Linked DNA regions of Homo sapiens. The protein of the gene in region 2 interacts with the protein of the main gene of each other region in a pairwise test. Each region holds a gene or a part of one and is shown on either strand. Other genes may lie near its edges. The genes, in order: CLEC12B, PLLP, FAM174A and TMEM174.

The links.
Region 1: the proteins of PLLP (region 2) and CLEC12B interact in binary tests that used the Homo sapiens proteins (3 or more experiments, as listed by UniProt).
Region 3: the proteins of PLLP (region 2) and FAM174A interact in binary tests that used the Homo sapiens proteins (3 or more experiments, as listed by UniProt).
Region 4: the proteins of PLLP (region 2) and TMEM174 interact in binary tests that used the Homo sapiens proteins (3 or more experiments, as listed by UniProt).

What each region holds. Positions count from the first base shown.
Region 1 is NC_000012.12:10,006,292-10,013,641, forward strand, and holds the start of CLEC12B (C-type lectin domain family 12 member B), read left to right. Parts: upstream 1-4,335; 5' UTR 4,336-4,468; coding exon 4,469-4,559; intron 4,560-6,493; coding exon 6,494-6,592; intron 6,593-7,350. UniProt on the Homo sapiens protein: Inhibitory receptor postulated to negatively regulate immune and non-immune functions. Upon phosphorylation, recruits SH2 domain-containing PTPN6 and PTPN11 phosphatases to its ITIM motif and antagonizes activation signals.
Region 2 is NC_000016.10:57,260,650-57,267,672, forward strand, and holds part of PLLP (plasmolipin), read right to left. Parts: intron 1,422-7,023; coding exon 1,248-1,421; intron 1-1,247. UniProt on the Homo sapiens protein: Main component of the myelin sheath that plays an important role in myelin membrane biogenesis and myelination. Plays an essential function in apical endocytosis. Regulates epithelial development through the regulation of apical endocytosis.
Region 3 is NC_000005.10:100,530,370-100,538,375, reverse strand, and holds the start of FAM174A (membrane protein FAM174A precursor), read right to left. Parts: upstream 3,003-8,006; 5' UTR 2,846-3,002; coding exon 2,412-2,845; intron 1-2,411.
Region 4 is NC_000005.10:73,168,446-73,175,643, reverse strand, and holds TMEM174 (transmembrane protein 174), read right to left. Parts: upstream 2,452-7,198; 5' UTR 2,401-2,451; coding exon 1,775-2,400; intron 1,585-1,774; coding exon 1,479-1,584; 3' UTR 501-1,478; downstream 1-500. UniProt on the Homo sapiens protein: Regulator of plasma phosphate homeostasis. Decreases serum inorganic phosphate (Pi) uptake by regulating the sodium-phosphate cotransporter SLC34A1 trafficking by PTH and FGF23 in the kidney.

The DNA.
Region 1 (7,350 bases), on a different chromosome or scaffold from region 2:
ATCCATTCAGATACGTGGTCCTGTAGATCAAGCGCTGGTATGGAGATAACAATTTTTGGACATTATCAATGTATGGCTGTTATCTCAAGGCACGAATCTATAAGAAATTAATTCCCATTCTGGCCATTCTCTGGGTACTATTCAATTTAGTTCATTCCAGGATAAGTTTTTTGTTTTTTTTTTAAGAAGACCAAGAATTGAACTCTAGGACACAACAACATCTTAAATTAATTTAAAGAGGAATCAGTTAATCTGAGGGAGGATTGGGTTGTGAGTGAAGCAAAAGGAAAACCAAGAGAATGGTGTCCTAGGGAACAAAGCATTTTGGAGAAGAAAGTTTGTCACGAAAAGTGAATAATCAGTTATTTAAAATTCTGTTTATACGATGTGTAAGATGAATCCTGAGAACTAGCCATTGGATGTGTTTATACTGAGGTAATGTTGACTTTAGCAGGAGTGTTTTTTAGAAATAGTGAAAGAAGGGCCAGGCGTGGTGGCTCACGCCTGTAATCTCAGCACTTTGGGAGGCCGAGGGGGACAGATCACGAGGTCAGGAGATCGAGACCATCCTGGCTAACACGGTGAAACCCCGTCTCTACTAAAAATACAAAAAATTAGCCGGGCGGGGTGGCAGGCGCCTGTAGTCCCAGTTACTCTGGAGGCTGAGGCAGGGGAATGGCATGAACCTGGGAGGCGGAGCTTGCAGTGAGCCGAGATCGCGCCACTGCACTCCAGCCTGGGCAACAGAGCTAGACTCTGTCTCAATAAAAAAAAAGAAAGAATAAAAATAAAAAAAGAAAAAAAAGAAATAGTGAAGGAAAAAGCCTAATTAGAATAGGTTTGGGAAGATCATAGAGAAATTTTTGAACCCATTTGTTGTTAAGAAAATTAGAGAAATGGAGTGATCATGTGTATGGTGTTACGGTGAACAAAAGATGGCTTCTGCTTGTTTTAATATAGGAGATATTATATCATCTTTGGAAGTGAACATAAGTGAACAAGTAGAGATGAAAAAAATGGAAAAATTGATAGAAAGAGAAAAAGAAGGAAAATTACAAGCTTGAAATCTTTAAGGAGATAGGTGGATGGATTTTAATATACAGATGGAGATTGATCTTAGATGAGTAGTACAATTCAACCACTGTTGAAAAGAATACTACCTCATATACTGATGTAGCTGTTTTGGTATATTTGACTAGTGAAACAGAGAAAACTTCTTTCTGAATTTCTTTTTTTTCTTAAGATAATGTTAATGGAAAAGCCAGGTTATCCGTTTAGTTTGTAGAAAGAGAAGACAGAAAGAAATTTGAGAGTCTGAGAAAGAAAAAGAGATTGGGAATAATCTTTTAGGAGATTTGCAGAACAGATTGATTAGTAAGAGTGCTGAGAAGTTACATTTCAAAAACGTAAGATAAAACCAGTTAATATGATCACATTCAGCTACTTGAATGTATGCACAGAGTAGGTAGGGTTGGATTTAAACAAGCTGCATTTTCTAGATGCTTATGATGAATGAAGAGGTAAGCAAGGAAGTTGTAGCTGTGGGTAAGAAAACGATTTTTATAATTGGCCCTGGTAAGTGGTGCATGCTGGGTATAATAGGAAATGAGACATGAGGGATTGACAACAATGAGAAGTTGGCATGGTCAGTGAAGTTGCTATCTCAGTGGGCACTGAAATGCTGTAGAGTGTAGAATACCCAGAGAGAGTGGGCTGGAAACATAGGAGGTGGAGGTCAGAGAGTGAAATATCTGAAACAGATCATGGAAGAATTTCTCATATTGGAAATGAAATTGTCTGCACTCTAGTGCAGTGCTGTTCAATAGCCACGTTGCTAATAATGGAAATGTTATTTACCTGCACTGTCCAATTGCATAGCCAATGCCACCTGTGGCTGTTAAGTACCTGAAGTATGACTAGTGTGACCTAGGAAATAAATTTTAAATTTAATTTAATTTTAATTAATTTAAGTTTAAATAGCAATTATATGCCTAGTGATTACTACGGTGAATAGCCTAGCTCTAAACTAGGATCATCTAGTGGGTGACTGATTTTTGTGTGTGAGCAACTGATTTCTGAGTGTGGGTAAGGTTATTGGAGGCAAATTCAAGAACTGAGAGCCCATAGTATTGGAATTATCACCTACCTGAATGTCGAAATCACATGATAATCATGATAGGAGTAGAGATCAATAAGATTTAAGATAGTTGAAAAAATAATGAAGAAATAAGGAGAATTTGGTAAATGACTGCAACAAAGTGAGTTTTTAAATAGTGTAACTGATAAAATAAGCTACAGAAATGCTGTAAGTTTTTAAGGGAGAAAAGTATATAAAGAAATGTCTAAATTAATATGATCATACACTAATAATGATAGATGATATAGCTTTTTGGATCATAATAATAGAAAGTATGTGAGAAGTGTTATCAATCTTCTCTTAGAAATAATTAGGAATCAGGTGACATTCTTCATCATTGTTCAAGCTAAGCATCATTTCATGGATAGTGAGAAGTTAATACTTTGTTAGGAAGCTTTAAGGTATGTGAAAGAATTAAGGAAATGAGGATGAAAACCCAGTTTTTGCAAAATCTGGTGAAAGTCATGAGACGTGAGGCCAGCCAGACTTCCTGAATCGAGTGGGGACTCAGGGAACTTTCCTGTCTTACAAGAGGATTGTAAAACGCACCAATCAGTGCCACGTAAAACGCACCGATCAGCGCTCTGTAAAACGCACCAATCAGCAGGATTCTAAAAGTAGCCAATTGCGGTGAGGATTGAAAAAAGGTCAGTCTGATACGACAGAAACGGAACATGGAGGGGACAGTAAGGAAATAAAAGCTAGCCACCCCAGCCAGCAGCAGCAACCCGCTTGGGACCCCTTCCATGCTGTGGAAGGTTTGTCATCCTGCTCTTCACAATAAACCTTGCTACCACTCAGTCTTTGGGTCCGTGCCATCTTTAAGAGGTGTAACCCTCACCGCAAAGGTCCGCGGCTTCATTTTTGAAGTCAGCGAGACCAGGAACCCACCGGCAGGAACCAACTCCGGACACGGACCAGAACAGAGATAGAAAACCATTCTTAATTTCTTATTTTTGTAATCATCTATTTAAACTGGTCCTCATGTCAATGGTCTCTGCCTTTTCTGAATTCAACTAGAATAGTAAACATAAGCATAGATTTATTATTTGTTTCAATATTTTTGATAGTGGAGTTTTATTGATATATGACTTAGAGCCTCCAAACATTTTTTTGATTATTTCATCAATTTGAAAAAAAAAAAAACAAAAAACATGAACAAGTAACATATGTATATTTAGGTGTTTAGAGATCATGCACAGCGTTCCTAAAGAGAAAGTTTTTACATTGCCTTTCTGCATCTGCTTCACAGCTGTGGGGTGAGTGCACCTCACGCTGGACACCTTTGACTAAGATAATCTCCACACAGATATGAACCTTGGAAGTTTTAGATCACTCCCCACTCATCTGAAACCACAAAACTCATACCCAATCCTTCCCCTAAGTACAGTTATCTAATATTCTGCCTCTCCCCAAAGGAAAGCTTTAGAGGAGATTCCTTAATTTCGTCCCTCATATATAGCGCTCCCCCCCCATATTTTCCTGGGTTCTGTATTAACTACATATTGCTGCTGTAACAAATTACCACAGATGTATTAACTTCCGGTAGTTATCTTTTTAAAATCTTGTCCTGTGTATTCCTTGCTGTCTGCAGGATTATCCCATGGTTGTTGTTCTGTTAGGAACTTTCCCAACCATGCCAGAAGAGGGCACTCCCATTCATACTCACGTTAAGTAGCTAAGTAGCTATCAGTTTCTTCTCCATGCTCCATTACCAACACCATGTCTCTCTCTCTCTGTCTCTCTCTCTCTGTCTCTCTCTGTCTCTCTCTCACACACACACACACACACACACACACACACACACACGCTTGAATTTTCTATAATAGCAGCCAGGTGTGTGGCACAGCTCTTTCTGTCTTAATGTGTGTCTCTCTGCTTAATATCTAATGTGGCTGAGAATAAACTAGAACCAATGTCTCCAGGCAGATTAGCTAGCCTTAGATAGATGTAAAGAAGACAACCTGACTCTTTTCTGAAACATTCAGAGCATCCTCTACCCCGAGGATCATGGGAATTCCCTCATGTTCCTCCTGCTCTGCCTCAAGCACCCCTTCTTTGCTGCACAGCAAGAAACAGTTCTGACAGAGCAGACAGTTTGAGATCTGTAACATTCTAATGAGAATATCTCTAAGGAGAATATTTGGCTTTTCTCACTTTCTCTGTAGAGAAACAAATTGTCATTCTTCTCTTACAGAGGGGCAGTAGAGTGTGTCTGGGTCAGCTGAGTGACTACATCAAAGCTCCCAGCCTTGAAAAACACATGCTGTTCCCAGGCCTCAAGATATTGAAACATTAATTAGATAATTTAAAGTAGCGTTTTCTTCTACAATGTCTGAAGAAGTGACCTACGCGACACTCACATTTCAGGATTCTGCTGGAGCAAGGAATAACCGAGATGGAAATAACCTAAGAAAAAGAGGTAGGAGTTCAGAGAAGACCAGCTGTGTCCTTGGGGGAGTGGACAGGTGTTAAATGCTTTGAGGTGCCAGCTTTAATACTGGCGTTAAAGACATGTGCTGTGAAATCTCCAAAATGGGGACAAATAGTTGTGGAATGTATTAGAAAAGTGAGTGTTCCCAAGGTTGAAGTGAAAATATGTGGCTTTCAGAACCTCTTTAAAGTTGTGTGATATCACACAGTCAGAGAAATTCTGACTGCACATGCCAGAAATTGAGCTTGGGGAATTAGAGATTTCTTCTTATGAATATAATCCTTGATATTTATACCTTGTTAGAGATGCCAGGAGGATATTCTTTCAGAAACCAGATTGGAGGCTTCTAAAATAGAGAAGGTAGAGGACGTTTTTCTTTTAGATGATGTAAGTTACTTAAGAGAAAACTGGAAGATGAGTGAGTGGATTAGAAATAGATCAGAGCTAATTTTTCTTTTGTCAGTATTTTTTCAAATTTTAGGGTAGTTGAAATCCGAGCATAATTTGTAATGTTGAACCAGTAATAATAGTATCTGGGTAGTATTTTATGTACATTATATACAGATATAATTGTAATGAAAATCCACAATAATATTCGAATATTAGTATTTTCTCCATTACATAGATGAAAAAACTGAGGGTGAGAGAAATTAGATAATTTAAGCAAGCTCACACAACTGCTATGTGGGGAAGCCCAGTCTCAGTGCTGGTCTTCAGCTCATTCTCTTATGCCTAATTGGAAAAATAGCAGTCTCCATGGTCAAGACTCTGATTTAATATATAAGACCACATCTCTTATTTTCAGATATGTTAACTATCCAGGTTCTCCTGAATCATGTCAGTCATCTGAACTACTTTCTCCTGCCCTCTAGATTTATCTTTACATTTTGTGTGGTGCATGACATTTGAGGGAAGGATATTTACAAAAAGCCGATGGGAATAGACTTTGCATATGTCTAATAAATGTGGTTACACATTTTTGCCTTGTTTTGTTTTACTTTTTAATTCTAATTCTAACCTGTGAGGAAAAAGGAGGTGTGGATATGGTGCATATCACAGTGTACCTAGAGTCTGTCATGCTGTATCTAAAACATTGCGCTAGATGTTATTTGGACCTAAATCAAGGGATATGAAGCTAAGGAAAACATGACAACCATTGATATTTTAAACAACAACAATGACTAGGATGCTAACGGCTTTCTGGTCTATTCTGCTGTTTGTAGGTTAGACTGCACATTCTTTCCTTCTTTCATTCAGTATTCATTCATTATTTATTAGGTGATAAATAGCATGAATAATAGATAAGTTATTGTTAACAGGTAAAAGATACTTTAAAAAGTCGAATCCACTTTTACAAGGCAGATAGAACATGTGCCTTATAGAGACTTTTGAGCTCAAAAGCTTGAGGTGTCTCCTACTGTCAGCATCATCCAGAAAAGCAGTTTTTAGATCTCTCATTTATGAATTCAATAAACTTGAGGAAGAAAAGTGGGCAATGATGTAAAACAAAAACCTTGAAATTAGGAGAAGCTTCCTTTTTATTTTATTATTATTATACTTTAAGTTTTAGGGTACATGTGCACAATGTGCAGGTTAGTTACATATGTATACATGTGCCATGCTGGTGTGCTGCACCCATTAACTCGTCATTTAGCATTAGGTATATCTCCTAAAGGTATGCCTCCCCCCTCCCCCAACGAAGCTTCCTCTTAAAGTGAAGGAGAGCGGTGGAGAAATGGAGGGGAAACAAGGATGGCACCCTCATTGCACTTCATATTAGGTATTTTCTAAATGAGGGCATTAAAGAAGCAAGAAAGAAACGTTAGTATCGGGAAGCTCCCTAAGTGGGAGAAATAAACAAACCAAAGTGAAACAAGCACAAAGCAGTTCTGTGTGCTGATTGCTCTTTTGGCTTTCTCCAGGGCATCCAGCTCCATCTCCCATTTGGCGTCATGCTGCTCTGGGTCTGGTAACTCTTTGCCTGATGTTGCTGATTGGGCTGGTGACATTGGGGATGATGTGTAAGTATATCAGCATCAAACCCAACAAAGGCAACTAGAAAACATATTGTAAACCATGTACTTTCAGCTTGGATTGTAGATGGGTCCTAGCATCCTGAATCGTCTGATACTTTTCTGCTGTCTCATATCTCTCCTATTCGTCATATCTTCCCAAAAAACCGGCAAAAGACATTATCAGGATTTGGTTCTAAATTCATTGTTTTATCTTGATAAGCTAAACTGGACTTAGACAAAGACTCTTTGTTTCCAGTTATTCATTAGAATAAAGAGCCTCTTTTCTGCCTAGACACACATTCACTTATCATTCCAATGCTGAGAAATAAAGTCAAGAAATATGTATTGAAGGAAGTGCTTGCTATTTTTATTTACCTGAAAGACTTAACACTAGACTAGGTTCAGTCTGCTTACATGAAACTTCTCTAGTGGAGAGAAATCTTCCAAGTAGCAGCAGCAGCCTGATTTCTATGAATGAGAAAGACATATAAACAAAGAGGAAGAGTGGCCTGATACACCTTACCAAGTAAGAGAGTTGAACCATCTCCACATGACAATGGAAGCTCCACTCTCAAGCACCACAGCCACAAAGGAACATTCTATTGATTCTGACCCATCCTCGGGAAGTTGGGGATGAACATGGTAGGGAGTTCTTGAGTAATGAGAAAAACATCCTGAGAATACAAACTTTATAGGGTTGTTAAGTATATGGTATACAGAGTAGTGAATTGGCATGGTATTCGCTTACAGGGAACTCACAGTCA
Region 2 (7,023 bases):
GAAAGCCTCAGACCCCAGCTGCAGGGGTTTTCCGGGTCAGAGGAAAAAAAAAACCAGCAGCTTTCTGTGTGTCTGGCCGGGGTACTTCCCATGTCCGCTCTCAGCCCTGTGTCCTGGGGAGACTGTCCTGGGGCAAACCTGGGGAGCCCAGCCTCTCCCAGGCCTCAGGGCCTCACCTGCAGGCAGCCAGGTGCCCGAGCTTGTCCTGCACACTTGAGGCCCTGGCCTGGGCAACTTCTGACAGCTTGCCACAGCCTCCAGCCACAGGGCTGCCTACCTGGGCCAAGCTACAATCTCACAAACTCACACAACACAGGCACAAATTCTGACCACCCCCAGAGGGAAATTTTTTTTTTGAGGTGGAGTCTTGCTCTGTCACCCAGGCTGGAGTATAATGGTGTGATCTCGGCTCACTGCAATCTCCGCCTCCTGGGTTCAAGCAATTCTCCTGTCTCAGCCTCCCAAGTAGCTGGGACTAGAGGCGCGCGCCACCACACCTGGCTAATTGTTGTATTTTGCTAATTGTTGTATTTTTTGTAGAGACAGGGTTTCACCATATTGGTCAGGCTGGTCTCAAACTCCTGACCTCAGGTGATCCACTCACCTCAGCCTCCCAAAGTGCTGGGATTACAGGCGTGAGCCACCACACCCGGCCGGGAAAAATATTTTTAAGATTCCAAATGGCCTCTTACAAATCCACTCAACAGCCCCTCACTTCTACTCCCCTCCTGGGACAAAGTCAAGCCTGTGTCCTTCCTGGCTCATGGTTCCCCAAAAAACCGTGCACCTAGGCATGGTGGCTCACTCCTGTACTCCCAGAATTTTGGGAGGCCAAAGTGAGAGAACTGCTTGAGCCCAGGAGTTCAAGACCAGCCTGGGAAATAAAGTGAGACTCCTCTTCTACAAAAAATAAAAATAAAAATTAGCAGGGCATGGTGGCACGTGCCTGTAGTCCTAGCTACTGGGGAGGCTGAGATGGGAGGATCACATGAGCCCAGGGGTTCAAGGCTGCAGTGAGCCATTATTGAGCCACTGCACTCCAGCCTGCACATAGTGAGACACTGTCTTGAAGGAAAAATAGAAAAACTGGACCTCTGAACCATCAATCCTCACCTCCACCCCTGGCTCTGCAGATCAGCTTAGGTCAGTGAGGATGTCAGGCCACCCCCCCACACCCTGCCACTTCTTCTAGGGAAAGTCACAGTGGTCCTGTCATAGCCACTTCCAGTACCCCCACCCAGACTCACCACCAGTGGCCAGGGAACCATGTACAACTTCATGTGCAGCTGAAACAGGTAGAGGTTGAAGAGGACGATTGTCACCAGCCAGAGGAAGACAGCGACGAACATCACCCAGCCATAGGCCGGATACAGGTGGTACGGGGTGTCCGCAATCAGCGCCCACACCAGCAGCCCCAGCACCTAGGAGGGTCAGACAAGGCAGGATTGGCCAGAGATGCGGTTTCATTTCTTATCTAGCTAAGAAATACTGGCCAGGCACAGTGGCTCATGCCTGTAATGTCAGCACTTTGGGAGCCCAAGGTGTAATAATCGCTGGAGGCCAGGAGTTCAAGACCAGCCTGGGCAACAGAGCAAGTCCCCATCTCTACAGAAAAATTAAGGCCGGGCGCAGTGGCTCACGTCTGTAATCCCAGCACTTTGGGAGGCTGAGGTAGGCAGATCACCTGAGGTCAGGAGTTCGAGACCAGCCTGGCCAACATGGTGAAACCCTGTCTCCACTAAAAATACAAAAATTAGCCAGGCATGGTGGCGTGTGCCTGTAATCCCAGCTACTTGGGAGGCTGAGGCAGGAGAATTGCTTGAATCTGGGAGGCAGAGGTTGCAGTGAGCTGAGATCACGCCACTGCACTCCAGCCTGGGAGACAAAAGTGAAAATCCGTCTCAAAAAGCAAAAATAATAATAATAATAATAATAGTTAGCCAGGTATGGTGGTGCGCACCTGTGGTCCCAGCTACTCATGAGGCTGAAGCAGGAGGATCACATGGGCCCAGGAGTTAAAAGCTGCAGTGAGCTATGATCATGCCACTGCATGCCAACCTCAGAGACAGAGTGAAATTGTCTCAAAAAATAGAAAAAAATTTAAAAAGGAATGCTGACTTGGCTCGTGTGATACACCACTGTACCGGGGCCCTGCCCTGCACTCTCACTCCTCTTGCAGGTCTCAGCTGAGATGTCAGGTGCTCCAGGACACCCCCACGCCTCCAGCCGGCATCCCAGAGCCCTCATCAGTGCTCACAGGGCCCCCCAGGCACCCACCATCCAGGGCCATAATCGTTCCCTTCCCCAGACTGCGAGCTCCACGAGGGCACAGCCGTGGCTGTCTCACAGCTACGTCCCCACACCCAGCACAGGCCCTAGGCCCTGCCAGGGGCTCAGTAAAAGCTGCTGAAAGGAAGATCAAGTCACCACAGTCCCAGAGGCGGGAAGACAACAGCCCTGTGTCCTCCCTCCCAGCTGGGCCCAGCAGAGAACGTCACAAGGGCCTCTGGGTGACCTCCTGCCCAACACCCCACGTCTCCGGCTCTCCCAGATGCCCTTCTATACAGGTGTTGCCATCTCACAGGTGAAACTGGGCCTCCAGGAAGCCAAGGGGCCTACCTGTCAGGCTGTTCCCACACGGCAGGATGGGCCTGACCATCCCAGCAGAGCATGGGTAGTGGCTAACAGCATGAACTCTGGAGCCCAGCTGTCTGGCTTCGATCCCGGCTCTCCTTACCGGCTGTGTGGCCGTGGGCAAGTGTATAACCACCCTTGCTTATCATATAATGACCATTCCTATCTTGTAGAGCTACTGTGAGGACCCACAAGTTCATGCACATAAATGATTGCAGCAGAAGTGTTTTTTTATTATTCCACAAGCCCGAACTGGACTGCACAGGCCCCAGCCCTCACAGCCACAGAGAATTCTCTGCGGCAGGTTTGTCGACTCACTATGCAGACTGTCTCAGGGTGCAGGCCAGCAAAGGGCCAGCTGAGGCAGGGCCCAGGGAGCTCGTGGAGGCCCCCAGAGGCACCTCGGATGTGGCCATCCTGGGCCTCCCCAGCCCCTCCTACCCCCACCCACCCCTTGCTGGTGGAGATGCTCTGGAGAGCGCCTTCTCCACGAGGGCACTCTCTGGAATCCCTGGCCACGGAGAGGACACGAGGGTCTAGCTTTGGAGAAAGGCTCCATTGCCAATCAAGACACACAGAGGTGTCCTCTTTTTCCCCTGGTCAGCGCCCAGGTACATGGCACCAAGGCTGCGTAGTGACCTTGCCACCAGCCCAAGGACAAGTCAGTGGGATCAGAGAAGCGGCTCCGGAGCAGGACCTGCCTCTGGCTGCTAGGGTTTGGAGACAGAAAGTCCTGGCTGCTCCCAGCAGCTGAGGGGCTGCCGCCAGCCCCTAGAGCACCTGAGGGCCTGGGCCTAGAGCACAGACAGAGCTGGGGTGCCTGCCAGGCACCCCATCCAAAAGCAACCTCGTCGAGGACCAGAAGGGAAGCTCCTGTGTGGATCCCTACAGAAGCCAGGGACAAGACTCGGGGGCCTGTAGCTGAGCTGGCCCAGGGAGCCCTCAGCCCTCACAACCCTCCTTCCTCGGCCTACTCCCCATCCCCCAGGGATCTGGCTTGGGAAGGGTATGGCCCAGTGGGGAAGTGGCAGGTGGGGCCTCGAGCTTGGAAGTCAAAAGCTGTGTGGCTGTGTGATGCTGACCGAGTACCTTCCCTGCTCTCCGAGGAAGATTCTGGGTTTTGTTCACTGCTGTATCTTCAGTGCCCAACAGTGCCCGACACATAATATACGCTAAATACACAATGTGCTTAGGAACTAACAATCCTATTTCTTCAACCATGACAGAGACCAGAACCCTGCCCTGCACAGGCACCGTGTATTAAAAGAGGAAGCAGTGGGGCTGGGCGTGGTGGCTTATGCCTGTAATCCTAGCATTTGGGGAGGCCAAGGTGGGAGGATTGCCTGAGCCCAGGCGTTCAAGACCCCATCCTGGGCAATATACAGGGAGCCCATCTCTGCCAAATACTTTAAAAATTAGCCGAGTGTGGTGATGGTGCACCTGTGGTCCCAGCTACTTGGGAGGCTGAGTGGGGAGGATCGCTTGAACCTGGGAGGTTGAGGCTACAGTGAGCCATGACTGTGCCACTGTACTCCAGCCTGAGCAACAGCAAGACCCTGTCTCAAAATAAACGAAAATAAATAAAATTAAAATTAAGTAAAGTTAAAATTAAATTAACAAAATAAATTAATAAGAAGCAGGTGTCCATCTGTGAACTGCCCCTGGCCTTGCCTCCCCCCAACCCAAGTAAGGGGCTCAGCCCAAAGTGGGAGGCCCAGGGAAGGTGTCCCGCTCTCCAGGGCTCAGCACCTGCTCCTCCCCACACTGGGGTGAAGCTCCAGGGATCCACCCCCCAACACACAGCACCCTGCCAGCCTCTGCTGCCCGTCAGCACTCTCACCGCCGCAAGCAGGCCAGGTGAGGGTAGGCAGGTGAGGAAGCCAGGGCGGAGCCACAGGGCCTTGCCCGCTGTCACACACCAAGCTGGGGGCAGAGCCCTTACGAGTGTGGACCCAGGGCAGGATGTCTCAGAACAACACCCTGCCAGAAACAGACACACCTGGAGAGGCCACGAACCCCCAGAGCTGGGGGGAGGCCAGTGTTCTGAAGGAGAACAAACACTTCGGGCAGCACGCCTCCGTCCCTTCTCCAGGTGAGAACTGGGTGCGTCCAAGATAAACAATTATTTTTTCATTTAAAGCCAATTCCTCATGGGCCTCCGCTGCCACTGTGTTGCCAGCTTCCAACTAACTAAAGGAAAGTCAGAAAATGCAATGAACCAAAAATCAAGAAAAGACCAATTCAGGTTTCCACTATCATATGCCTATCAATCACCTGTCCCATGACTCACAGCCTAGGTCACAATAACCACTCAATGCCTTCTCGCTCTGTGCCAGACACATCTCATTGATTCCTCCATCACCAGACCCTCCTCAAATGTTCTATCTGTTATTCCCATCTTCCAAAGGGAATCTCAGGAGGCAATGTGCCTGAGGTCACTGTGGGTAAAGGACAGGGCAGGAGGCCGGGTGCAGTGGCTCACACCTGTAATCCCAGCACTTTGGGAGGCTGAGGCAGGTGGATCACTTGAGCTCAGGAGTTCGAAACCAGCCTGGACAATATGGAAAACCCCATCTCTACCAAAAATATAACATTTAGCTGGGCATAGTAGCATGTGCCTGTGGTCGCAGATACTTGGGAAGCTGAGGTGGAGGATCAATGGAGCCTGGGAAGTCAAGGCTGCAGTGAGTCATGATGGCGCCACTGCACTCCAGCCTAGGTGACAGAGACCCTGTCTCAAAAAATAAATAAAAATTTTAAAAGGATAGGGAAGGACAGGAACCCAGATCCGTGCTTCCTTGGAACCTGCGCTACTATGAGTTATTTAGTGAAGTGTAAAAAATGAGGACACTTCAGCTGGCTCTAGGAGCCAGTCTGGGCTGGGCACCCAGGCTCCCCCCACTGCCCGCCGCCATCCCTGCCCCGCCCTGTGCTGTGCTCCAGCCCCACCCCTGGTTTCCAGATCAGCGAACACAGCGTCCAGATGAAGCCGGTGGATAAGGACTGGGAATTTCTGGCGTTCTTTCTGGCTGTGCTGCCTGGCTCTGTGCCTGCGGAGCTGCCTCGGTTTCTGCCCTAGAACAAGGAAGGTTCGTTCCTGCATTTGAACCAGACAGACTGGTTTCTCCTGGTTCCTGAGCCCCCAGCCCAGTCCCCCAAGAGAGACCCTGCTCGGAACAGGGCACCCAACACAGGCCTCGCTGTGGGCATCTCTCTGGGTTAATATATTTAACAAATGTCTATGGAGAAGGGGCCAAGAAAGATCTCACTGGCAAGGTGATGATAAGCAAAGACCCAGGGAGGTGAGGGAGGGGCAGGGAGGGTGCCACGTGGGTATCTGAGAACAGAACTCTATGCCTTCACCCCTGGGCCCTGCAGGTCTCTCTTGCTTACATGTTCGTCTGTCCCCGTGTTTCTCTGGAGGTGTCTACATGAATATCTAACTGTCTCTCTCCTACACACACAGGCAAACCACATCCTCCCCTCCTTCCCAGCTCTCTGAGGTCCCTGCCATGCCTCCCCAGACAGGTCCTGCAGATAAACAAAGGGAACTGTCTGGAAATCTCAAGGGCACAGGGCCTTTTTTTTTTTTTTTTTTTTTGCTTTTCTGAAAACCTGAATAATTTGGATTAGGAACTTTTTTTTACATATGAAGACTACAGTGTCAAAAACGACCTTTGCATCTTCAAAGAATTTCCAAACAATTGGGTAACGAAGAGATGTTTTTGTTAAAACCACCTGTGGCATCAGAGAGAAGATTCGTCACAAATGCCCAACCAAGAGGCACTCCTTGCTGCAGTGAAACCCTGTTATTACAGTTTCCCCAGAAGCTGCCAACACTGACAGCCAGACAGGCCAGGTTCCTGCAGGGTGCATGCCCTTCACTGACTCTGAGGGAAGTTTTTCCTCATCTCTTATTGTGGTTTGCAATGTGTTCCCCAAAATATGTTCAAGTTCTAACCCCTAGTACCTGGGAATGTGGCCTTATTTGAAAACAGGCTCTGGCCAGGCGCAGTGGCTCATACCTGTATTCCCAGCACTTTGGGAGCCTGAGGTGCATGATCAGTTAAGGACAGGAGTTTAAGACCAGCTTGGCCAATATGGAGAAACCCATCTCCAGTAAAAATACAAAAATTAGCCGGGCATGGTGGTGGGTGTCTGTAGTCCCAGCTACTCAGGAAGCTGAGGCAGAAGAATCACTTTGAACTCAGGAGGCAGAGGTTGCAGTGAACTGAGATTGCACCACTGCACTCCAGCCTGGGGGACAGAGTGGGACTCTGTCTCAGAAACAAAACAAAACAAAACAAAACAAGGCCTGGCATGGTGGATCATACCTGTAATCCCAGCACTTTGGGAGGCTGAGGCAGGTGGATCACCTAAGGTCAGGAG
Region 3 (8,006 bases), on a different chromosome or scaffold from region 2:
TTCAATGTAATAAAATTTTACAAGTAAAATATTTTCTGCATCACCTCAAATCAGTTAAGAAAATAATGATTTTGGCCCATTCTTCTCCCTTGGCACAAATAACTAATTTCAGTGCACTGTCACACATAGTTTGAAAATGGGAGCCAAAATGAGCATTCACCAAGATAATGAAGAAAACCATAATCTGGAAGCAAAAAGTATGAGTTCGGAACACTGCCCAGACATTGTTAGCATCATTCAAGCTTTGGATGCCAGGCAGCCAACTAAATGTAGGACTTGGACTGCATGAATATGTTAGATGCTGGTTAAAGAATGCACTTTTTATTAGCCATAGTTCAGAATTTGGCTGTTAACACACATCATGTTACCAAGTCATCCAATAGGATCATATTGGAAGGACTGTATCTGTCCAAGTTTTACAACATTAATGACAGAAAATCAATGGTAATAAATATGTGTATTTAAAATAATTAAAAAGGTGGAAGCAAAAGGAAAAAAACAAGGAAGGAATATTCCCCCCAAATTATCATTATACTTATCATTTTTATGTATAAGAGATACAACATTCAAGGGGCCATGCATTTTTATAGGAACTATGTACAGACAGCAGTAAATAACAGTTATATAGTGAGGAAAATAATTTGTTTCAATATTCTTTTAATCTTTCTTTATATTAAGAAGAAAGTCTCAGTTTGGTGGTAATATGCTTTTAACACTTAGAGTGTGAGTGCAGATTTGCTAGCCTTTGTGAACCAACAATATCTAGCTCAAATAATATTTCTTACAGCTGTGGTTCTCAAATATTGCTTACGCCTGCTGTTTTGGATTTCTTTACATTCTTAAAATTGTTCAGGAACCCAAAATAACTTATATTTATGTGAATTACACATATCAACTTTACCATATTAATTAAACTTGAGAAAACCTATACTTATCAACTGATTTAAAATAATAGTAAACACATTACAAGTTAACATAACTTTTATGAAAAACAACTATATTTTCAAAAAAGAAAAAAACGTAAAAAGAATGACATTTAGATTCTTATTTCCAATTCCCTTTAATATCTGGCTTAAGGTGATAGGAGTAGATAAAAAATAGAAACAAAAAATAGGAAATGGATAGATTTTTATATTTACTTCTGCATTAAATCCTTTGCAATGTGTTGTTTGGTTGAAGCATACAAAGTAATTCCATCTTCGCACAGATATAAACTTGGAATGGAAAGAAACATTTTAATAGCCTTTTTATATATGAGTGGTTATTCCTTTATGATACTACTACACCAAAACTTGACAAGCAGTTTCTTAAAGATTAGTTGCAATGTGGAATCTGAAACAATATCAATGAACTACTTGTACCCTATAAGCCTGTAACAGAATGTATTATTTTGAAAATAGTTTTAATACTGTAGATGCCCTGAAGAGGTCTAAGTGAAACTCCCACCTGTGTGGTTCCCTGGCCCACATGTCAAGAACCACTGGCTTACACTATTTTTTAACTAGCCAAGTGATGTTGGTTTTCCATTCATGATAATAACGACTTGTTTAAAAGGAAACTTTTGCTTTAAATAATCAGTTTAAAGAAATATGTTAAATTACAATACAGAGGGTATTTATGGGAAAAACGTGAATTTTGAAAACAATAAACAAACATAAGCTGCAAACCTACCCTCTACACTTATTTTATAATGAAATAAACTGCTAGACAGCTTTCCCTCACCTTATCTCTTTGCTGGCTTCTCCTAATGGTGAGGTCTTGGCTCTGTATGTCAACTCTTCAGGAAGGTGATTCTCTGCCACTTAGGTGGCAGATTAAAGGGCAATACTAGGAAACACTGATAGTAAGGAAGAACTTTTCTTCTCCTGAATTTTATAAAAATAAAATATCCATAAGGCACCTCTATATTACTATTAATCCACTCAAATATATATTGATTTCCTATTAAGTGGCAGCATTGTACAAATAATTTGTAAGACTCACAAACCTACTAAATAGATATCCTGTCTTTAAAGAGTTTGCATTCTGATTGGCAAAATTTTGACCAGTTAGGTATACAAAAATTTAGACTAGAAAGGTAGAAGTATTACAAGACAGAGTAGTCAAAATTCTAGGGAATAAAGATTATCCTCACTTCAGAGAAAGGGTGCCCTTTGAGGCTGACGTGGGTTGTAGGTCAGATGAAGAGATTTGGAGGTAGGGCACTCATTTATAAACAAAAGGCAGCAATTAGTTATAGGTTTAAATTGCTCCAAAGGTAACAGGCCTTTAAGAAAGTCAATATCATATTCTTAAGCAGGAGTCCCTGATGCTGGGGAAGGGGGAAAGGGTCACAGAAGTCAGCCTTGCTGGAGATCACCGGCCTGCGTATCTCAGGCCCACGGGGGTGCCCCACCGAGGCTTTGCCTCACCTGACCGTCCTGACCACGAAGTACACCAGCACCGCGCCGCTCACCACCATCAACACGGTCAGGGCCCGCTGGGTCATGGGCTTGTCGCCAGGGTTGGGGCTCACAGCAAGGCCGCCACCCACCGAGCCTTCCCCGGCCTTCCCTCCGTGATCGTCCGTCTCAAGCCCGGCCACAGGGTTGCTGCCATTGCCTCCCTCGGAGCCCCGCGGCCCCGCAGCTTCAGCCAGACCACGGCCCGGCTGCTGGGCAGGGGTAGGGCCCGGTGGCAGCGGCGGTAATGTCCGTGGTCTAGGGTCAGGAGGCCCAAGACCTGGCGCGGCCTCGGCTGCCTGCAGCAGGACTGCCAGGGGCCCGCTTAGTTCAGGCAGCAACAGCAGGAGGAGGACGGAAGCCAAGAGGTGGCTGAGACAGCAGCAGCACTGCGAGGCCTTCATCGTTCCCGGACCGCTCTCTCACCACCCGGGAGCCGCCAGGCCCGCCACGCTGGCTCCAAGAGGGACCATAGGCGCGGTGGAGAATGAAGCAGAGGTGACCAAACGCCAGGGAGAGGCCCGGTCGTGGCAGGTGGCAGAAGCTACAGCAGTGGCAGCTGCCCGGAGAACCGGAAGTTCGTACATCTCAGCGGCCACTGCTGCTAAGGACGCCTTCGGTTGCTAACTTGTAGGGGCGGATGCACTTGGTGACGTCAGAGGCCTAGCGCCCAGTGCGCACGCGCACTTGTGTAAAAAGCGAGGACGTGACCGTTTTGGAAGCATTGTTCTTTTCACTGTTAGTGAGGAGCGGTCAAGGATGCGTATTAAGAAAGTAAGTAGACAAAAAGAGATTGTGTAAAATGTACAGCAACTCTCTCATGCAGGAACCCTGAGAGATTGGAAACTCATAATCTGAATTCATTGGTGTCAAACTGCAATAACACATTTAATCTGTAAGCCAGAAGGGCTTAGTTTTCCTTAGCTTCATTACAAGCTTTAAGCAGGCTTTTTTTCCTGCCTATGGGTCCCTGACCTCCCTTTCTAAAGAGCATTTGCTTGTAATGAGTTCATGTCCTTTGTAGGCACATGGATGAAGCTGGAAACCATCATTCTGAGCAAACTATTAGAAGGACAGAAAACCAAACACTGCATGTTCTCACTCATAGGTGGGAATTGAACAATGAGAACACTTGGACACGGGATGGGGAACATCACACACCGGGGCCTGTCGTGGGGTAGGGGGGAGGGATAGCATTAGGGGATATACCTAATGTAAATGACGAGTTAATGGGTGCAGCACAGCAACATGGCACATGTATACATATGTAACAAACCTGCACGTTGTGCACATATACCCTAGAACTTAAAGTATATTAAAAAAAATTACTTTAGAAAACTTTACCATTGTAAGTTATTTCTCTTCCCTTTTCAGATGTAAATATTTTTTAAAGCTTCTGGCCAGTTATATAATTGAAAACTATCTCAAGGGTATGGAAAGCCATCATGCCTTTGAAATATAATCAGCAAGGAAGGTAGTGGGCCATCTCTTATTTTGTGTGAGAGGAAAGGAACCTAACTGTTGTAGGCTTCTCGCTTCAAGTTGTAAAACCACCTCCTGTCATGGAGGAGAAAATTTACTTTTCCTTTGGGTAAAGTCAATCAGCAAACTCAGGTGGCCGGTGATCTTCCCAAAATAGCTCTTAATAACTCTCCACTCCTTTTTTTCTTTTAGAGGAGTTGAGATTAGAAGAGTTTTATCCCCTTTCCCAACAGCAGTAGTCTTCAATAATGTCTTCCTTGCCTGTTTGACTTCAGTAATATGGAACTTCAATTTGTGCAGATAACTAGAAGTGGCCGCATGATGTACCTCTCACCAATGAGATGCCTGTCAAGGGTATACGTGGGTCTTTTGAGTAAGTTATTGTTTTCATTGCTAAAAGAGAGACAGATACAGGTAGATATATACAGAGAGAGAGCCAGAAACACACACACATGCATACACACACCTACCTCTCTCATTATTCCTTTCCCCCTTTCACTTGCCTGCCCTCTCTGCACAGAAAGTTCTGGCCCTAACCTTGAAAAGAATATGACCCAGCTAGTCCTCTGATCCTAGTAGACTGTGGGATATCTGGCGTAAACTATGACTAAACCTATAGCCTGGCACCAAATGCAGCCAAGGTTAGCTTAAGTTAGTCAACCCCAGCTTGACCAAAGAAGTGAAAAATAAATGCTTATTTGCTGTATGCCACTGATATTTCTATGGTTATTGATTATGCCACATTATTCTAGCAATAGTTGATTAAGAAGCTAGAATCAAATCATGGTATTAATTAGGAGAATATAATAATGTGGCAGTAACCTGATACAAATTTCTCATTCTGAGATTTTTTCCCCTTATTTATGTATTTTTTTTTTATATCCTGTGCTTGGTACAACTTGTTTGCAAGCCAATTGATAACAAGTAAATGAACAAGTATATTAAAATTAAGAGAAAAATTCATAAACAACTAATTTTACTTAGTTTGAAAGATTGTATTTCACATAGATATTTGTGCTCAAAATTGTAACTTTCTATTGCACAAACAAAACACAGTATCTTCTCCTAGGAAAATTTTTGTTCATTCCCATGACAGATTTCAAGATGTCATTATATAATGATGTTTTACAAACAATATGGTATTCTAAAAAGAGCACAGTAACTTCCAGGTATGTTGCCTGCTTAAGATCACTTTTGTTGAGAATTGAGTATCTCTGAAAAATCTGATTTTGTTTTTGTTGTTGTTGTTTAGTTAGTTGGTTGCTATATCAGGAGAGATCTGTACTTAAAAAGTTTATCCTGGCAGTAATATAGCCATTTTAAGTGAAGGTAGAAAGTGCTGGGCACCAAGCAGGTTAGTATATAGTCCTAGGGCTATAGAGGCCTGTAGGATTGGATTAATGGGAAAAAAGTTAGGGAAATGGACAGGATATGACAATATCTGGATGCAGGTAGTAAGGGAAAGGAAAGAGATTCTTAAATTTCAGTGTACATGAAAATCACTCTGAGAGCTTGTTAAAAATGCATATATAGTCCATGTCTCCACTTCCAAAAATTCTGTCCAGAATTTCTAAAATAGTGATCTAGAATCTCCAATTTTAACAAATTCCCTTTCTTATTCTGTTTTGGGTAATTGAGAGCTGCATTTTGAGAAACATTAGAACATAGCTTTCCTAATCATTTGGAAACAATAGTTTGATTCTAAGATTTCAGAATCATTTAGCTCTTTGCATGTCCCAGTTATTGCCAAGGACTGCTGCAGATGGGAATTTGGGGTAACAAATGATACCAAGGTTTTATGCCTGCACATCTGGGAGAATGATAATGCCATTAATCAAGATGAAGAACATGACAAAATCAGATTTTGGAAGGAAGGAAAGATAATGCACATTTTCTTTTTTGTCATTCCTTTTTTTTTTTTTGACAAGTTGAATGTTGGACTTTTTTGGGAGGAGGCATTAAATACTAACTCTATTCTATTTTTTGGGAGAGGCATTAAATACTAACTCTATTCCATTTATAATGTGGAATGAAGTTCTGAGTAAGGAAGATGGGAAATCAAAAGGGCATTTTATTACTGATAAATGCCATTTGGAAGCTGACACTAGGGTGTACCACAAATGGGCTTCTTTACACTGAAACTCAACATTAAGATGCCTAATCCTTGCAGTTCTGCCAGCCAGAAGCAACTGCCTTACCCTGCTCCCTGAAAGCAGCTAAGAGACAAACTATCCTGTCCACTCTACCTAAAACAGCAGTTTACAAAATTTGTAGTATAGATCTTGTATGTTTCATTTATAACACACACTTAAGATTCCAAAATTAGTGTGATTATTTTTACCACTTGAACCTAAGTTCTATGAAGCAAGGGTCAATCTCATTTATTCACTACTCAATACTCAGAATTTAGCACAGTGCTAAAAAAGAGTATATCAAAAAAGACAAAGGTGGGCATTACATGATGGTGAAGAGTTTAACAGGAAGAGCTAACTATGCTAAATATATAAGCACCCAATACAGGAGGAGCTAGATTCACAAAGCAAGTTCTTAGAGACCTACATAGAGACTTAGAATCCCACACAATAGTAGTGGGAGAATTTAACACCCCATTGACAATATTAGACAGATCATCAAGACGTAAAATTAACAAAGATATTAAGGACCTGAACTCAGCTCTGAATCAAGTGGACCTGATAGATATCTACAGAGTTCTCCATCCCAAAACAACAGAGCATAACATTCTTCTCATTGCCACATGACACTTACTCTAAAATTGATCAAATAATCAGAAGTAAAACACTCCTCAGCAAATGCAAAGGAACTTAAATCATAACAGTCTATCAGACCACAGTGCATTCAAGTTAGAACTCAAGATTAAGAAATTCGCTCAAAACCACACAACTACATGGAAATTAAACAAACTGCTCCTGAATGACTCTTGGGGAAATAGTGAAATTAAAGCTACAATCAAGAAGTTATTTGAAACTAAAGAGAACAAAGAGACAACATACCAGAATCTCTGGGACTCAGCTAAAGCAGTGTTAAGAGGGAACTTCATAGCACTAAATGAACACATCAGAAAGCTAGAAAGATCTCAAGTTAACAACCTAACATCTCAACTAAAAGTACTAGGAGCCAGGAGCAAACAAATCCTAAAGCTAGCAGAAGACAAGAAATGACCAAGATTAGAGCTGAACTGAAGGAGATAGAGACACAAAATGCTCTTAAACAAATCAATGAATCCAGGAACTAGTTTTCTGAAGAAAGTAATAAAATAGACTGCTGACTAGACTAATAAAGAAGAAAAGAGAGAAGTATCAAAAAAACACAACCAGAAATGATAAGGGGGTATTACTACTGACCCCACAGAAATACAACCATCAGAGAATACTATAAACACGTCTATGCACATAAACTAGAAAATCTCATAGAAATGGATAAATTTCTAGACACATACACCCTCCCAAGACTGAACCAGGAAGAACTTGAATCTCAGAATAGACCAATACTGCACAGCAAAAAGCTTATCCACCACGATCCAGTTGGCTTCACCTCTGGAATGCAAGGTTGGTTCAACATATGCAAATCAATAAATGTAATTAATCACATAAATAGAACTAAAAGCAAAAACCACATGATTATCTCAATAGATGTAGAAAGGCCTTTAATAAAATTCAACATCCCGTTATGTTAAAAATGCTCAATAAACTAGATATTGAAGGAAGATGCCTTGAAATAATAATAGCCATTTATAACAAACCCACAGCCAATATCATACCGAATGGATAAAAGCTGGAAGCATTCCCCTCGAAAGCCAGCACAAGACAAGGATGCCTTCTGTCACCACTCCTATTTAACAGAGTATTGGAAGTTCTGGCCAGGGCAATTAGGCAGGAGAAAGAAATAAAGGGTATTCAAATAGGAAGAGAGGAAGTCAAATTACCTTTGTTTGAAGATCACATGATTCTGTATCTAGAAAGCTCTATAGTCTCAGCGCCAAAGCTTCTTACACTGATAAGCAACTTCAGAAAAGTCTCAGGATACAAAATCAATGCAAAAATTGTTAGCATTTCTATACACTAA
Region 4 (7,198 bases), on a different chromosome or scaffold from region 2:
ATCTGCTGGTCAGCATGCCACTGGTGATGCTCAGCCTGGTCCTTGTCACCAAACTTCTTCTCCAAAACCAATGGCCCTCAGCTAGGGACCAGTGTCTCAGGGATCTGCTGAACATAAAGCTAGTTTCTTTAAATGAAATCATTTTCACTTATCACCTATCATCAAACATGACAGTGTATGTGAAAAGGTTTTGTCCCCAAGATATAACATAAATGACAACAATAATATACCAAGCTTACTTCACTCATATCCTTGGAAACCTAGATACTTCTGATCAAAATTAGTAAAAGTTGCTCCATATACAAACGCTATGTCAAAATTTTTTTAAGAATTGCTTAATCCTGTGTCTTCCTTTAGGATGTACCACCCTTACCTTGAGTGGCATTGCCTTTGAAGCCCAAAGCAAATATTTTCTTTTAAAACCTAATGGTTTTAAACTGTCTCTTCTAAAGTCTGTGAGTCAGTTCCAGTTGTTTATTACACAGCCAAATTCAGAGAGATTAAGGACACCAAAGTTTTTTTAATGAAGAAGATGAGTTTCTTTTAGTCATAAAGATTGTTTCTATCATATCATTCCCCATGTGTTGACATGGCAACTCTGCTCTGTCTTGCTCCACAGACCTACGGGTACTTAGGGAAGTCCTGTGTTCTGTCAGCCACTGGTCCCAGCTAGTTCATGCTTGGCGCAGGCCCCAGCCTGGGGTGGACCAAGAGCCCACCCATGTTCATCACACGTCAAGCTTCAACCTTGCAGAAGAGAACAGCAGCAGCCAAGGGTCACTGTGACTCAGTGATCGGGAAGGATGTATTCACAGCGCTATCCTATTATGGTCTATTTTGTGTAATTTAGTCAGGTATCCAATACTATTCTAGCAGGAGACATGATTTATTTTATTTCATTGGTTTGATGTTTTTGTTTTGTTTTGTTTTATAGTCTTTAAGGTACCCAGAGTCCTCAGAGAGGCCAGATGGCAGCTGAGTTGTTTGGGATTAGTGAGTCTGCTTTGGGGCCAAGGACAGCCACCAGGAAATCTCCAGCTGGGCCTGCTTTCTCTTCCCTGCTTCCTTCCCACCCGACTCTCACCTCTGTGGAAACTCCCAAAGTCTCAGAAGTCGTGATTTTTCCATTGGCTGCTGGGGTTAAAATTGAGCCACCAATGCCTTCCTACAGAGAAGGGGGAGGGTGGTGGATGAAAAAGTGAAATTCCTGCTCCTGAACCTTATACAGGAGATTTCTTACCCGAGGGAATTTGAAACTGTTCCGGAGGAGAATTTCCCCAGCCCAGCCTAATTTTTACCAATCTGAGAAATTGCACCTCCCACTTCCCCTTTCCCCCCTTGAATGATCTCTGTCAGGCTGCCTGGGCGCTGCTGTAACTTCTGAAGGTTACAACATAGAACACCACGGTTGTCAGGTAACAATGACGGAAACACTTGCTCCCTGAGCTGAGCATTGTGTTATTATATCAGAATAGCCTCTAGCGAGGGAGAGAGTATATTTCTTCATAAGGGGGAGGAGAGAAGCAGGCACAGGCCTCCTCTTCCAGCTGTGTCTCTTCTAGCTGGTCAACATCAGGATTGGGCCTGAAATGTGAGCAGAAAACACAGGTACATTATGGTCCAAAGCACCATTCACAGAACCAAGGCTGCCATCGTGGGCAACAGGCTAAGAAGAGATTCACAGTCTCCCAACACCTTATTCATGGACCAAACAGCCACAGATCATGACGGAGATGGCTAGAAGGAGTGCATTCCCCCAGTAGACACGCCATACCTGTGATTTCCACCGTCCGTGAAAGAAAGGCAGCCCTCATCAACCACAAATGCAGAGTTATCTTGAGGGTAGATGGTGTAGTATTGAGGAGGACTTGACATGGCGGCTGCTGCCCCTCCAGAGGTTATGAGGCCGCAGGGGCTCACCACAGACTGCAGGTAGCTGGTATTTATCCCCATAGGCTCTGGAGAACCATAAGGAGGAGGGATGTACTGCACCACAGTGGCCCCATGGAAGGTGATGGGTTGGTTGATGCCAGTGAAAACAAATGATGGTCCTCCTGGTGTCTGTTCCGAGTCCGGGACCCTTTCCTCACTTTCTTTGCACAACTGGCAGGAGAGCATTTTGAACTTGCACACAGCAATCAGGATGAATGTCACCCCAACTGACAGCAGGACGGGCCCAAGGAGCTGGGTCCATTCAAAGTGGGAGACACCTTGGTATTTGATCCAGCCCATGACAGTGAATGTGATCCCCACCAGTCCCAGAAAGATGCCTGAGAAGAGCAAGGTGGCCCCCGCCTTGTCATCATCGGACACCTGGATGTCAGCGGTGCTGGGTGTGTAAGGAGTGACGGAGAACACATTGACAGGGAAGTCCTCCAAGCGGCCGCTGCCCTGCTCCATTGCTCCTTGTGGGCTCACCCTGCTTCTTAGAGTGGAGAGGATTGTGAGAACCAAGGAATCACAGGTCCAAATTAGTTATAGAAGAACTTAGGGCTTGTGCTTAACAGGGTGTAACACACAGAGGGCTGGACCTTGTTTAGAAGAATAAAGGTCTGAGAAATGAAGCCTGAAGTTTTCTCATGTATTGTCAACAAGTGGAGGTCTCTGTTTTGCAAGTCAATGACAAGCTGTCTCTCTAATTCACATTCATTCATTCACACATTCAAAAATTAACTTATTGAGCCCATCTTTCTCTTTCTTTTTCTTTTCTTTTCTTTTTTTTGTTTTGTTTTGTTTTTTTAGGGTGTGGGTCTCACTCTGTCACCCAGCTGGAATGCAGTGGCACAATGATAGCTCACTGCAGCCTCAACCTCCTGGGTCAAGCGATCCTCCCACCTCATCCTCTCCAGTAGCCAGGACTACAGGCACACATCACAATGCTCAGCCAATTTTTAAAATTTTTTGTAGAGATAGGGTCTCATTATGTTGACCAGGCTGGTCTCAAAACTCCTGGACTCAAGTGCTCCTCCTGCCTTGGCCCCAGGAGGTACTCTTCTATAGCAATTTAAGACGCTGCCATAAGACCCTGTTTTTGTCCTACCCAACTTTGTAGAAATGGCAGAGCTCCCTCAAGGGTCTCCAGCAGTGAATGGGGCCCTTGATATATCCACACATGCACAGGAGTCTAACCTGATTTACCTAGTGGTTCAGTTCATTAGGAATAGACAGACACCTATTTCTTGACTGCGTGTGTATTCCTATCTACTTCAAGAACCCCTAGCTGTGATGATACTTAAACTTTAATAACAGTTCTCACAAAGCCCTGAGATCCTGTTCTTTTCTGGCCAGCCCCACATGCCTTTTGCTTTCTGCGTTTGGGGAGTAATTCCAGCTTTGGGAGAGGAACAACGTCATAGGAAACCTTTTTATGCACTGCATCACTGCCAGTGGTTGAATAAGCATCAGATATGACCTGGCTCACTAGGACACATGCTTCGGACCCTCCCTCCATGGTGGCCACACAGTTCCTGGTCTTCAAGGTGAAACAACCAGCTGTGTTTTGGAACCTACTATGTTTTACAACCAAACCCAAGTTGATGTAGAGAAGACAGTTTAATTTTCAATAACATTATCTGTCATTCATGACTGCAAAACTTCCAAACAGCCCCATGAGTTTCTTCCTCCACTGATTAATAACTGTAGCCTTCTTTCCTTCCTAGACAGATTTTATTCAAGCCGATGCTCTCTGCAGTAATTAAATATTATATTAGCTCCTTTTGCAGAATTGAGAGGGCTGCCGTCTTGCCCTAAGGCAGGGCTTCCTAAACTTCCCTTGACAAAGAAATCACATGGGCCACTTTTTTAAAGGACAAAATGTGAGCTCCCATTTCAGACCAACAGAACCAAATATCCAAGGGAAGGACCTCAGGTGATTCATCATCAAGAAATCTTAGGAAACCCAACCCCAGGTTAACCTTAAATGCTTCTAGGAGACCAAAGGACATTTTTCCCCATGAAAATGCCTCTCCCTGCTACAGGACAAGGCTTGTAATCTCCTACTTCACTGCCAAACAGATGGAAAAGCAAGCAGGTGACCCCTGAGGTATCTTCCTGGATGTGCCTTGGAGCAGCAAGGCTGGAGTGGAGTTGCTATAGGAACAGGCTGCCCTTTTTCCCACTGAGCTAGATCAGAGATCCAGGAAAGCCAGATTTTCTCTTTAACTATAAATTTCTGGTAAGTTAGCCTGCCATTATTTTCAGGTTCTTAACTCCTAAGTTAACAGTCAAAACAATCCCTGACATTTAGAAAAAAGCTAGGATCTCAAAACTGTCTTCTAAATCACTCAATTTATGTTTTCCATTTGCCTTTAGCTATATCCACTAAGAATAACTGGGAAGCCTGAGAGAGTAGAGGAAACAGATCACCCTCCTTTAGACAGCTCATGAATGCAAACTGGAACTGCTTTCAGAGCAGAAAGATCAGAAAGTTCTCCAATTACATTTTCAAGGTCCGTTTGACTCAGCTGCTTCTTCCAAAAGCCCCACCTCTGTCTAGATGGTAAATAGCAATTTTTTTTTAAAGCTAACCAACTGAATTCAATAGCATATTCAAAGGACTATATGCCATGACCAAGTGGAAGGCAAGGCTGGTTCAACGTACAAAAATCAATCTATGTGATGCAGTATATTCACAGAATGAAGGGGAAAAAACAACACACGATCATCTCAATTGATGAGTGAAGGGGAAACATTTATTGAATACTTACTATGTACCAGGTGTAATTCTATACATTTAATATAGGTGACATAATTTCATTCTTTTAACAACCAGGTTACAGTCAAGAAAACTATGCTGATTATTAAGCTATGGTGACTCAGCTCCAAACCCACCTTTCTAAACTTCTCTTTGTCTCAGACTCTCAAAGCACACTTTTCCTTTCCCAGGCTGCTCCAGTTAGGCTTTGCCAATAGGGGGTGCTACAGGGAGACTTCAAGGTGGGAGAAAGGAGAAGGCACTTAGCAGTTTCTATTTTGCTTGCTGTTACTGTCAGTGTCACTCCAACAACAGTTCTTCTTCCTGGCAGTAACAGTTCCAGTTTCCAGAACCCTCCTCCTGCCCTCCAATCAGCCTCACTGTGCCCCTTCAGGGAAACCAACACCAGCCACTGTTCTTTGTCCAAGCTCCTGAGATGCCAGCATTAGCTGAAGGACGTTTTCTACTCAGAGAGCTGCATCCCAGCTCCACAAGGGCCCTTATCCAAGCTTCTGATTTCTAATATAAGCCCAACCTCTTCCTTTTGTTCCCCCAGCCTGCTTTCACTAAGTCTAAGTGTTCTTAGTGTTTATTTTTTGCCTTTTCAATCCTCCAGTATCTGTTAAACTAATTTCCTATACCAAATTCTCTCTATTAAAATAACTGGTATAGTTTCTGTTTCCCTAAGTGATTCTGACTGATATGTCGTATTCACAGTGGGGTTAGGAAACATACCTGTGAAGATGGGATTCTGGAATTGATTTGGTCATATTCTTGGCCTCAAATACAATGCTGAGTCCTCATCAATGAAACATGGGATATTAGTAGATCATGGCATGAAGTGGCATCAAAACTAATAAAAATAGCACCTGTAGTAGGTTGTGAAAAATTGCCTATTGGAGCAAATGCCTTGGGGACCAACTGGCTGCTACACTTAATCACTATGACAATAATGATGAACTGCAAGTTCTGTGGGATGGAGATGGCCACTTCAGAATGCCCTGCAATACTTATAAAAGGAAAAGTAACAAGCTCAGGTCTTTAAATTCAGCTCAAGTCACAGTCAGAGAACCAGAGAGTTTCTGTGGTGGTCCTAAAAGAAACTTGTATCCTATATTTACAGGGCTGACATCACCAAAAGTCAACAAAATTTAAATAGATATCTTTCTATATAGCTATACATCTGTGGAGGCTACAGCCACTCCCTCTTAGATGCTAACCCACCGTGTTCACTGCTGTCTAACTCGTTCCAGGAATGCCTTTAAAATGCCTGTTTTGGAAGGGGAACATCACACACCAGGGCCTGTTTTGGGGTGGGGGGAGGGGGGAGGGATAGCATTTGGAGATATACCTAATGTTAAATGACGAGTTACTGGGTGCAGCACACCAACATGGCACATGTATACATATGTAACTAACCTGCACGTTGTGCACATGTACCCTAACACTTAAAGTATAGTAAAAAAAAAAGTCTGTTTTATCTACTGTTCCTTGCATGAGAGCATGTACTTACTGTAAGCCCTGCCCTTAGATCAAAACAACTTTAATGTTATAGTACTTACCATAAATCCTGACCTTAAGCAATTGTTCTACACATCCCTTCTGAAGCATACATACCCTTTCCCTGAGGTATGTAAGCTCTGGGTCTGGTGAGTAATGGTATAGGATCCACCATCTTGTCTCATGGCTTCCAGGAGCATGGCCTCTGTTCTTAAGTCCCTATTATATGTTCCTTTCTGAGAAACTGGATTTGTCAGCCTCTTTCCTCAGCCTCTTAGCTTCCATGGCCTTTGAGGATAGGTTTGCATAAACCTGCTTACCATGGAACAGTATCTATATCTACATGCGATTGGTTCAGTTTCTCTGGAGAACCCTAATAGACAATGATACTTAAAGTATCTATGGTAAGTAGTGATGCTGTACAGAGTAATCATAGATAAAACCACAGCGCAGGCCTCCAGGGTTTTAGAGAAAATCCATGCTGCTTCTGCAGGCAGCTATTCTTCTTTTGAGACACAGCTCATGATTCTTTACTGGGCCCTGGCTACTGGGCCCTGCATCACCCTAGGACACTGAATGACCCCTGAGCTGCCAATCATGACCTGAGCATATCTGACCCACACAACTGTAAGTTTGAGCATGCACAGCAGTGATTCATTATCAAGTAAAAATGGTATTTAAGAACTTGGACATGAGCAGGTCTAGAATTACAAGTAACTACATAAACAGGCGGTTCAGAGCCTTACACTTACTCTTACTGTGTGGCATCTTCTCCTACAATCCAAACCTATGGCCTAGTAGGGAGCTCTTCCCAGCTAGATGACTGAGGAGAAAAAATCTTAGGTCTTGTGTATACGTTATTCTGCACAACAGTGGACTGCTGAAGCATTATGACACCCATCAGGAGTGTCCCTGAAAGATGCTAGAAATAGGGTAGAATGGAAATCCTAGCGAGCAGAACTTCAAGCAGGACATTTGGTTGTCCATGTTGTCTGAGCTGAGAGA